2 separate regions of the Homo sapiens genome follow, and region 1 is linked to region 2. The links come from fine-mapping of genetic effects on gene expression. A gene starts in region 2. The other region holds a variant in brackets. All regions are shown on one strand. Distances are between the middles of the regions. Region 1 overlaps EGFL6 (EGF like domain multiple 6). Region 2 holds the start of EGFL6 (EGF like domain multiple 6).

Region 1 (5,308 bases), 28 kb before region 2:
CAAATGGAATAATTATACACCACTGGAAGGAATGTAAATTGGTACAACACTTTGGAAAACTGCTTGGCAGAATCTACTAGAGCTATATTTAGACATACTCATGACCTGGAAATTCCAGTCCTGGGATTTCCCCTACATACTAAAATGCTCATAATAGCATGATACTAGATAGCCCCAAACTAGAAGTAATCCAAACACCTCCCAACAGAAGAATAGATAAATGACTTGTATATTCACACAATGGAATACTATATAGCAATGAAACTGAACAAACGACAACTATAGGCAACAATGGATGAATCTCACAAACATGATATTGAGTGGAAGCTGGATATAAACGTGTATATACTGTATGAGTCCATTTATATACAGTTAAAAAATAAGCACAGCTAATCTGTGATATAAGAGGTCAACATATGGTTCTCTCACTGGCAGTGGAAGTGACTGGAAGGTGTGTGAGGGAGTCTTCTGAAGGGCCAAGTTTCTGGCTTTTGATCTAGATACTAGTGACATGGGCATTTAGAAAAATTCATCGAGCCATACATTTTTTATATATGCACAATTCTATGTGTATACTACTTGAACAATAATTTAGAAATAGATAATTTATATATTTCTGCCTTTCATGCTATCCCAAGCAGCCGCTGACATAAGCTGACAGCACAGCCTCCTGTCGATTATTATTTTGGCTGGCCCCTGCACTGGCCAAATTGCCTTGGCTCACATTCCTCTAGAGGGAGCCCTGTCAGACAGCTCTTAGTGGTGAAGTTGGAGGACAATATTTAATCCTAAGTAAAGATGTTCACAGGATGACATTTGGGCTGGATGATTTAAAAAAATATATATATATATATGAATTATATATATGTGAATTATATATATGAAATATATATATGAATTATATATATGTGAATTATATATATGAAATATATATGAATTATATATGTGAATTATATATATGAAATATATATATGAATTATATATATGTGAATTATATATATATGAAATATATACATATGACGTTCACAGGATGTTACGTGATAAAAGAAGGTTACAAAACTCTGTGTACAGATCATTCCAAAATTGGTTTAAAAAATACATAGGAAAAGAAAAGCCTAGGAGGGTATGCTCTAAATGCGACTAATGGTTATCTTCAGGTGGTAAGATCGAGGGTGACTTTCTTCTCTGTGCTTTTTTGTTTTCTAAAACAACAACAACAACAACAACAACAACAACAACTTAAGAATAAGTAACATTTTTATTAAAATAAAAAATGACACAGAAGGAAAATAGAACTTTAAAAAGGATTATCTGTAGAGGATGTCGCCTTTGGAAATGTGGTCATGTGAGGGTTTCATATCTTAACTCTACCAGGGAACATACAGAGAGGAAAAAAACAAACAAATTCCATGGAAGGCAAAAGGTCAGCATGGTAACAGATTCTTGAAAATAAGGAGCTGCTTTCATCTCTGAAAATATCCTTATATGGGGATTTTCCAGTGCCCTAGCTGGACATTTGAAACCCTCTTCTCCACTGCCTATCCCCTTTACCCTACCATCTCCCTCATAGAACCTAACCTCTTCAAATGGGGAAATTGAAAAATGCTGATTGGACATAACGGGAAACCCAGGAATATCCCATAGCTTGGCCCTAACTCTGAGGTGACTCACTCATTTCTTGGAAGAGTGTTTTGGGAAAGACATGAGTTGAGGGCTGAGGCCTGTCACCATTAATGGATGTACGTGGACTTTGATCAGGCTGCCACAGGGCAGGGAGGCTGTGGGAAGAAAACAGACTGCCTCAAAACTTGATCCAACTGGACCACTCCCTCAACGTTAATATTTTGCTGAGACTTTAAAACTAGCGTGGAAAATATTGTCTCTATTCCAAATCTCTTGAGACAGTATCTTGGTTCAGAATCCAAAACATATGGAAAACCAAGTTTTCTGCTGTAAAACCTCTGGTGAAGGGTATAGCTGAATTATTACTTATGAAAGCATGATTTTTTTTTCTGAGATGGAGTCTCGCTCTGTTGCCCAGGCTGCAGTGCAGTGGCGCGATCTCAGCTCACTGCAACCTCCACCTCCCAGGTTCATGTGATTCTCCTGCCTCAGCCTCCCGAGTAGCTAGGATTACAGGCATTCGCCACCACGCCTGGCTAATTTTTGTATTTTTAGTAGAGATGGGGTTTTGCCATGTTGGCCAGGCTGGTCTCAAACTCTTGACCTCAAGTGATCCACCCACCTCGACCTCCCTAAGTGCCGGAATTACAGGTGTGAGCCACTGTGCCCACCCTGAATGCACGATTCTTGAAGCACCTCTCTCAAGCAATTGCATGCAATTCTAAGAAACATCTCCAGGGCTCTGGCCTCTATGCTGGTGGCAGGACGCAGAGAGCCAGATTGCTCTCCGAGACTGTAGGGCTGGCAGCTCAAAGAGCGGCTATTTCAGTTTATGGGGCTAACCTCTGGGCTTGGCAGCAAGGGCTGGGAGTGGTAGAGTGGAGTGGGTGTCCAGTCTTCTCTGAAACTCCATTCTCCAAGGGCAGCTGAATTGGATTTACTGCTCTTTGTTCAACTTCCTTATAGGACTGGGGACCCTTTCTGAATTATTGAAGATTTCTTCATGCCAGGGTTTCTTAACTTCCGTTGACACAAATCATTATTTGTTGTGGGGACTGTCCTGTGCACTGCAGGATGTTTAGCGGCATCCCTGGGCTCCATTCACTAGATGCCGGGAGTACCTCCCACATCCAGTTATGACAACCAAAATTGTCCCCAGTCATTGTCAAGTATCC[T/C]GTGGATGACAAAATCAGCCAAGTTGAAATCTGCTGATCTATAGCAAAGACCATATCCCTTGCTCCAATGAGGCACTTTTATTCACCACGTTTACAGCAGGGTTTTTCAGCCTTGGCACTACTGACATTTGGGTCTGATCATTCTTTGTTGTGGGTGCTGCTATCCTGTGCATTGTGTAAGGTGCTTTGCAGCATCCCTGATCTCTACCCATTAGACACCAGTAGCACCCCCTCCAAATGTCCTCAGACACTGCCAGATGTTGCCCGGGATAAGGCTCCCAGATTTGGCAAATAAAAATACAAGATTCCAGCTGGGTGTGGTGGTGTGTGCCTGTAGTCAGGAGTCTGAGGCGAGAGGATTGCTTTGAGGCCAGGAGATCATGGATGCAGTATAGTCACTGCACTCCAGCCTAGGCAACATAGTGAGACCCCCATCTCTAAACAAAACAGTAAAGGATTCTCAGATAAATTTGAATGTCAGATAAATGACTAATACTTTTAAAGTATACACACTTCTCATATACTATTTTGAGAGCTTGTTTGGAGGTGCTAGCAGGGGAGCACAGCTAATATACCCTTGACTGAAGGTAAGTCCTCCTCTATCGGGGATGGTCGTCCTCTCCACACGAGCGCGCAGCTTCAGGAGGGACACACATGGAGCAGTGAGGGAGGAAGGGGACATCTGCCTAGCCAGCCAGATCAGCCAAATCAACCCAGGTGAGCAATGGGGTGACAGATGTCACAGCCAGATCACCCTCACATCCCCTATATACTATTTTGAACAAACATATACTATAAAATTATTTGTTGTTTATCTGAAATTTAAATCTAACTTGGTATCTGTATTTTATCTGGCAACGCTTCCTGGGAGACAAAATTACCCAGGTTGAGAACCACTGTTATAGATATTATCATCTCTTTAATGTTTTCAGACAAACAATCTAGGATGAAAGTTATAAATTATCTGTTATGATATATCAAGGCCAGGTGTGGTGGCTAAGCCTTTAATTCCAGCACTTTGGGAGGGCAAGGCGGGAGGATGGCTTGAGCCCAGGAGTTCAAGACCAGCCTGGGCAACGTAGTGGGACCTCGTCTATACAAAAACTGTAAAAAGTAGCCAGGCATGGTGGTGTGTGCCTGTGGTCCCTGCTACTCAGAAGGCTGAGATGGGAGGATTGCTAGAGCCCAGGTGGCTGAGGCTGCAGTGAGCCATGATCACGCCACTGCACTCTACCCTGGGTGACAGAGCGAGACTCTGTCTCAAAAAAAAAAAAAAAGTATATGAAGTATAATAAAAATATGCACGTTGTTCAACCCAACAATTCCACTTTTAAATATTTTTCCTACAAAAATATTCATTCAAGAAAGCAGGGCTATGCAGAGAACAATGTTAGATTTAGCACTGTTTGTAATGGCAAAAAATTGGAGACAACATAAATGATAATGGTTAAATAAAGCACATTTTTGCACAAAGGATAAAAGTATTCACACTAGGGACTAGGATACAGCCTTAAAAAATGTAAAGTAGTTCTGTGTGTGCTGACATGCAAAGATGCCTATGAGAAAAACTTACATTTATACTATCACAGAAAAAGACTTCCAGGATCTAAGACAAACTTAACTATGCTTATAGTAAAAACTAGTGGTGATCACTCTCACTTTTAAGTTTATATTTTTTTGCACTGCTGGATTTTTAAAAATAAAAATATACTTATAATACATAGGTAGTTTAAAAAGCAATAAAATTATTTACTTTTTAAAAAGGCTCTTTTTTTCTGTGTTACGGAAAGAGATGAAATAAAAAAGTAAAAAATATAAAAGACCTTTAGCTTATTTAAAAAAGATAAAAAAAGAAAAGAAAAGAAAAAAGGCCTTTTATTGGGCATCTTGACAAAAACATCAGACTTTTTACATTTTTCAAGGAGAAGAGATTGAAAAACTTGTCCTGAAAGCACCTTCATTTGAAGATTTGACTTTAAAAAAACCCTAAGAAATCCTGCGTACCATATTGAGTCGCCAGCCCTGCTGCAATGATTGAATTTGAACTATGACCCTGGGCTACCTTACTGACCTTGACTGCAGGTTTTCCCGGTGTATCCTGGAAAGCATCTGCATTTGTTTGGTCCCACGCACTCACCAAACTTACATCCAGGTTCGCATGTAGCTGTGGAAGGAAAAGATGTCTTGATGATAAAAGAACAGTAGTTAGTGTAGTGAAATGCACGCAAAACTTCGCTGCGTTCTGTGTGGCAGAGAACTCCATGGGGACATACAGAGGACAATCTGCCTCCCTTTGAAGGGAGGCAATACCACACTTCCAGTGGTATTCAATGAAATATAAAGCCTTCCAGACCACAGTCAGCCAGTTTTGCATGCAAACACAAAAGATTTAATAAAATAAGTATAATGTTGGAACTGGAAGAGACTCCAGAGTAACCCTGGGCAAATGCCAACGTCATTCCCCTTCCTTCTGTCTCTTGCCTCGTTTCATCTCCTCCATATTTTCTCCA
Region 2 (5,383 bases):
TTTTTTTGAAAATTAGATGTGTATTTGATACTTTTTGCAGCACATCTCAACTTGGACTGGTCACATTTCAGGTATTCAATAGCCACTTGGGGCTCCTGGTTACCATCTTTGCTGTATTGGACAGGTCTAGGGTATCTAAATAGTTCCAATACCCAAAGGACATAAAAAATATAAGGCAAGCCAAATTCTGAAGCTTAAGGGCAGGTACATGCATGGAGCTAATGATTTATTCATTTGATGAGCGTTAATTGTGTACTATGCACTAAATACCATTTAAGAAGCACATAATTTTCTAGGTTATAAAATCATAGTGCAGTGTTTCAATTAAAAAGAACTGATGCTTATACTGGAAATCTCTATACAGCAGCCACAGTTTTTCCTATAAGTTGTGAAACCCCAGGAAATAACCAGTAGACACAGTTTTCTGCAATGGGTGCCTTGCCTTCTCTGTAACAGTGTCTTATCCATAATGTGGAATCTAGAGCTGATTAAACATGGGTCCTGGACATTCCTGAAGAGCTGACCACTTGACATTTCCAAGCACATTGAGCAAATAATAAACACACCAGCTCATAAACTTGATAATCGTCTAAAGAAACCATGGTTCACATCTTGAAAACTGCAGAATTGCAGAATCCTGACATGGATTCTCCAGTTTAATATGCTTTGGTTTATCCAGGGGCTTTTGGCTTTTAATTTAATTTGGTGGCACTTTGAAAGTGAAGCTCCTGGAGGTCAGTTTGCTGGCCGCTAAAGAACTATTAATCTCATCTCCAAACAGCATTTGGTCTTTTTTAAGTGGGCTTTCTAGCAACGCAAGAACCTCTAGCATTCAAGGAAAATGTGATTATGAGCAAATTGCATCTGCTTACATTTTTATCATGAAAAGGAAATTGAAACTTGCGATCATACATTCTAAGAACCTGGTTTGAGGTTTGTTCTGTTTTAACTTCGAAATCCTTTAATACCATGGCTAACTCTGATGAAATATTTTTTCCTGTAAGTCAAACAAAGATAGGCAAACCTTCGAGAAGCCTGTACCAAACCAAAGCTCTTATCCTACTCTCCTCAGGAATCATCACTGAAAAATTTCTATAGTTCAGCAGTCTCCGCTAGGAGCAATTGTGCCCTCCAGGGACCTTGGGCAATATCCCAAACCTTTTTTTTGTTGCCACAACTTGGTGGTGGTGGTGGTGGTGGGGGGTGGGGTGGGGTCAAGGTTGCTACTAGTATCTAGTGAGTAGAGGCCACAGGTGCTGCTAAACATCCTACAATGCACAGGGCAGCCCATCACCCCAACAAATAATTATCCAGCCCAGCCCGAAAGGTCAATAATGCTGCGGTGGAAAAACCATATTCTAGTGGACACCTAAGTAGAAAGCAAGACATCACAGTTAGAGAACCAGAAAACCTCTTCCGTTGCCGGAAGGCTGCCCTAGTGCCCTGGTGAAGAACAGACTTTGGGCCAGAATACCTAGGTTTGCACCCTGGCTCCATCTCTTACTGGCTATGCTTCCTCAGGCAAATTACTTTACCTCTCTGTGCCTCGTTTTTCTCTTCTACAACACGGAGATGATGATAATAGTACCTTACACACAGAGCCATTATGGCTTTGGGTAGGTTAATAGTCCTGAAGTGCTTAGAACAGTGCCAGGTCGACAGTCACCATGTAAGCGTGCATTTACTAAGCGTCTTTGCCGATCTCTGGAAAAAATATTTCAGGTCTCAGCTAAGCTTAAGGGCAGTAGGGAACGGCTTCAGAGTCTGCATTGCCATAGCAAGAATGAGAATGGTTGTCATCTGACAACCGTGTCCTTTCTTTCCAGTTCATCAACCCTAATCAGAGAGCAGTGAGGAGAGCAGCCCGGCTGGCTCAGCTCAAGAACAGTAAATGCTTTATCGTCCTCGGTTTCTTTCCCTCCTTCCCCAGCAAAACTAGCGACTGACAAGCACTTGGTGTCCTGTGAATAGAGTGGAAAACACAAAACCGCACAGACACAGAACCCACCCACCGACACGCATACCAACCCTCACACACCTGCCCCTACAGCAGGTCTGCAGACCATCAAGCCCGCACGCACCCACGGGTCTGCGTGCAGAGCCTCCCTCCTCCTGCAACCCTCCGGACGCAGCCAGGTGGGGCACAGCTGATGCAAAAGGAGCTAACTAGGTGCAAAGCCCCGCCACAGGAGAGCAGGGAGGAAAGCCCGTGGGCGCTCCCGGCCTGGTATCCAGGTTAAATCCCGTCGCAGCGCGCACAGGCACACGTGCACACTCACACCCATACACGCGGGGGTGCCTGCAAAGACATGGGGCCCCAAAGCGGGACCTCAGGCCGGGGGTGGGGGGAAGCCAATCGCCAGTCAGACACTCACCTGGCCGCGTTCCCGAAACCACCTGCCACCCAGGAGAGCAGCAGCGGGAGCGCAAGGCTCCAGGGCAGAGGCATTCTCGCACGGGTCCTCCTTCCTCCTCCTGAGCCCCCCTCGGGAGGGCGCCGGCCGGACCCCGTAGCAGCTAAGCCGCCGCCTCCTCTCTCCTCAGCCGCTCGGGTCCTCCGCTCCACTCGCAGTTACCGGGTGCTGTCCCTGCAGTCTGGGAGGGGAGGCCAGGCACCGCGGCAGGGGCGCTCGCGGCCTGGGGAGGGGCTGGGGGCGCCCTGGCAAGCCTGGCCGAGGCTCCTCTGCGGATGAAGCTGGACGGGGTGAGCGAGGGAGGGCGGGGCGGGCTGTGCACATCTGGCTGGGACCCGCCTCCAGCATGACCCGCGCATCCTCCGCGCTCTCTGTTCACCCAGAAACTTCCCCCAGATTCAGGTCACTTCACGCTTGTCAGAGTCACCATCTACTACCATGTATTTCAGGCATGGGGCAAATTTCGGTGATACCTGCACTCCAGGACTTAAGAATTTAGTTGAGAAGTCGAAGCAGGATGGAAGGATGCAGGTTCCTAAGACATGATCCCTCACTTCTCTTTGGGTTTTCACGTTCTCCCGGTTTTCTTCTACAAACTGCAAATAATGGGATGCTAGAGCTGGAAGGTCACTAAGTCCTGGGCAACCCTGTCATTTGGCAAGTAATCTCTCAGGCCCATTTGCAACAGCTTACTTACATGGGACCCCAGATGACATCCCAATATAGTAACCAGTGCAGAAATTCATGGCAGAAACATGAATGCTATATGAATTCAGATCCATTTGGGTACTGACACATTCTTTGTTCTGACAACGTGTTACATTAGAATGAATGACTGATCCCTTTCTGTCCTTCCTACGTCCACACCCTTTGGCTTCATGGTAGGCAGACACTATGACCCCACACCTTGGCTTTGGACTTGGCCGTGTGACTTGTTTGATCAATGGTTTAAGGGCAGAAAAGTTGCAGTGTTCCAGTTCCAAGCCTAGGTCTTAACACACCTGACCCTCTATCATGGACATGAGAAGACCTTGCACCACCTAGCCTGGTGGTCCAAGGCGAATGAGAAACAGGTGAAAAAGCTACCTCGTCAACCTGCAGATCTATAGCTTGAAGCAGAGCTACTCGGTGGAGCCTCATGTATATTACCCAATCCACACGTATATGAATGAGCTCAGCTAAGGTTGCCCGGCACCAGCCAATCTACTGAGGCTTATTGTGATAGTCCTCTGACACACAGTGGCCCAGTGTGAGAAATGAAATGAAAAAGGATACAGAGAAAGAGGAGGTTTATCTTGATTGGAAGCTTGATTCATGGTTTTATAGGCATATGCCTTAATTCTGGCCAATGAAATGTGAGAAGTAGGGAGGGGGGAGATTCTTGCTGCAGAATCTTGCTTTACATTGTAATAGATGTTCTTATTGGTGCAAGCCATGTTTAGTTGGGACTTCTATTTTACAGTTGAAGGTATCCCCATGGATTCAGTATTCTTGGGTAACTAGTTAGACCATTGAGCTGCTCGTAATTAATAGTGTCAGACCTTGTCCTAAACACATATGTTATCTGATTGAACATCCACAAGCCTGTGGATGGAGACCATTAGTTCCCCCATGTTTGAAGTGTCAAGAAACTGAGTCGGAGAGGTTAAGCAGCTTGCCCGACCAAGGTCATACAGCTAACAAGTATAGAACCAGAACTGGAAACCAGGGCTTTTCCCCATTGGGCTCTGCTGCTGTTATATCAATCTCTTTTCTCATCTTCTCACGTATTGGCAGATTCACATGTCAGATGAGTATCATGAATAAGGTAATAAGATGAGCTCTTCAAGGTTGTCATCAAAACACTTTGAACTCTTCATACCATAACTTATTTTATTTACTGAAATATTAAAACTAAAAGAAAATAATATAAGTTATGAACTCTATACCTGTGAGGATCTTAAAGAAAATGGAATATAAAATTTGTCTTGTTGTGGGTTTCCCCACAAGCAGGCCCTGAGGCAAGGATTCAAGTAAAAGTAGTTTATTCTGGAGGTACAGAGAACATGGGTAGGTGAGTGAGGAAATGAGTTGGGAAAGAAGACAATATCAGGCATATATTAAGTTATCATTGTGAGCAACTGGAGGTTCATGCTGCTGGGGATCTCCCAGAGCCAGCATAGAACAAGCATCTCCAAATGATTTTACCTAAAAGGCAAGGGAACTGGGTATTTATACACCACTTCCATTCACTCATTACCTGAAAGCTTCAACTGTGGTACTGATCCTAGAACTCAGTCTTCTGTGCTGAAGACAGAGTGGGGCTTACAGCCAAAGAAAGCCCTCAGGCAAATGGCTAGTGATACTGACTGTTGAAGGTCCTACTGAAATGTAAGGCCTGAGGGGATACGGGTAGTGGCATGACATTGGCAGCTACCTAATATCTGGAACTTGAATCGAATTAAAAATTATGGATTTTTGCCCATGCCACTTCTCCCTTAACATTTGGATACTAATCACTCCCTCCTCCAAATAAACCATTACTCAAAAAAGTCCTAACTAAACATGATTAGTCTAAAATGTGAGGGCTATCTGCCTTCTTAGTCCTGAGTTACAAAGTCAGAATAACATCTTGCATTGACATTATCTGTAACTTTCTAGCTTTAGTTTCAGTATTTTGATGCTTTGTGCTTTTTCTTTGTCAGCTGAATTCTCTTTTGTAGGCTTAAAGGAGGTAATGGACATTACAACAGGAAACTTTGGGGGAGGTCAAACACTCCCCAGCCAACCCACCTATTATTTCCTGGGGGAGCTGTGAACAAAAGAGCTGTCACATAATATGAGCAACAGAGAAGGAACCTGCAAATGATGTGTTGCCAGGTGAGAAGATGTTGGATACAAATTGCCACATGGAGGCAGTTGTTTTTAGTAACTGCACTGGTGTTGCTGACTTTGAAGAGGAACCTGGAAACTGATCTTTAGGGGACCCT

The links. PIP is the estimated chance that this variant, and not a neighbour inherited with it, causes the effect. A credible set is the group of variants that fine-mapping cannot tell apart.
Region 1: its variant is the best candidate, but not a certain one, in a credible set for the expression of EGFL6 in lung (TOPMed, PIP 0.89).

Annotation. Positions count from the first base shown.
Region 1 is chrX:13,594,490-13,599,797 of GRCh38, reverse strand. It overlaps EGFL6 (EGF like domain multiple 6), which reads right to left. Exons shown (of 12, transcript NM_015507.4): 3 at 4,870-4,962. It also overlaps the pseudogene RN7SKP20. Among named protein-coding and RNA genes, the nearest start is that of MIR6086, 6.9 kb to the right of the region's middle. The variant T/C (reference allele first, on the strand shown) is at 2,799.
Region 2 is chrX:13,566,928-13,572,310 of GRCh38, reverse strand. It overlaps EGFL6 (EGF like domain multiple 6), which reads right to left and starts at 2,710. Exons shown (of 12, transcript NM_015507.4): 1 at 2,376-2,710. The coding sequence starts at 2,449.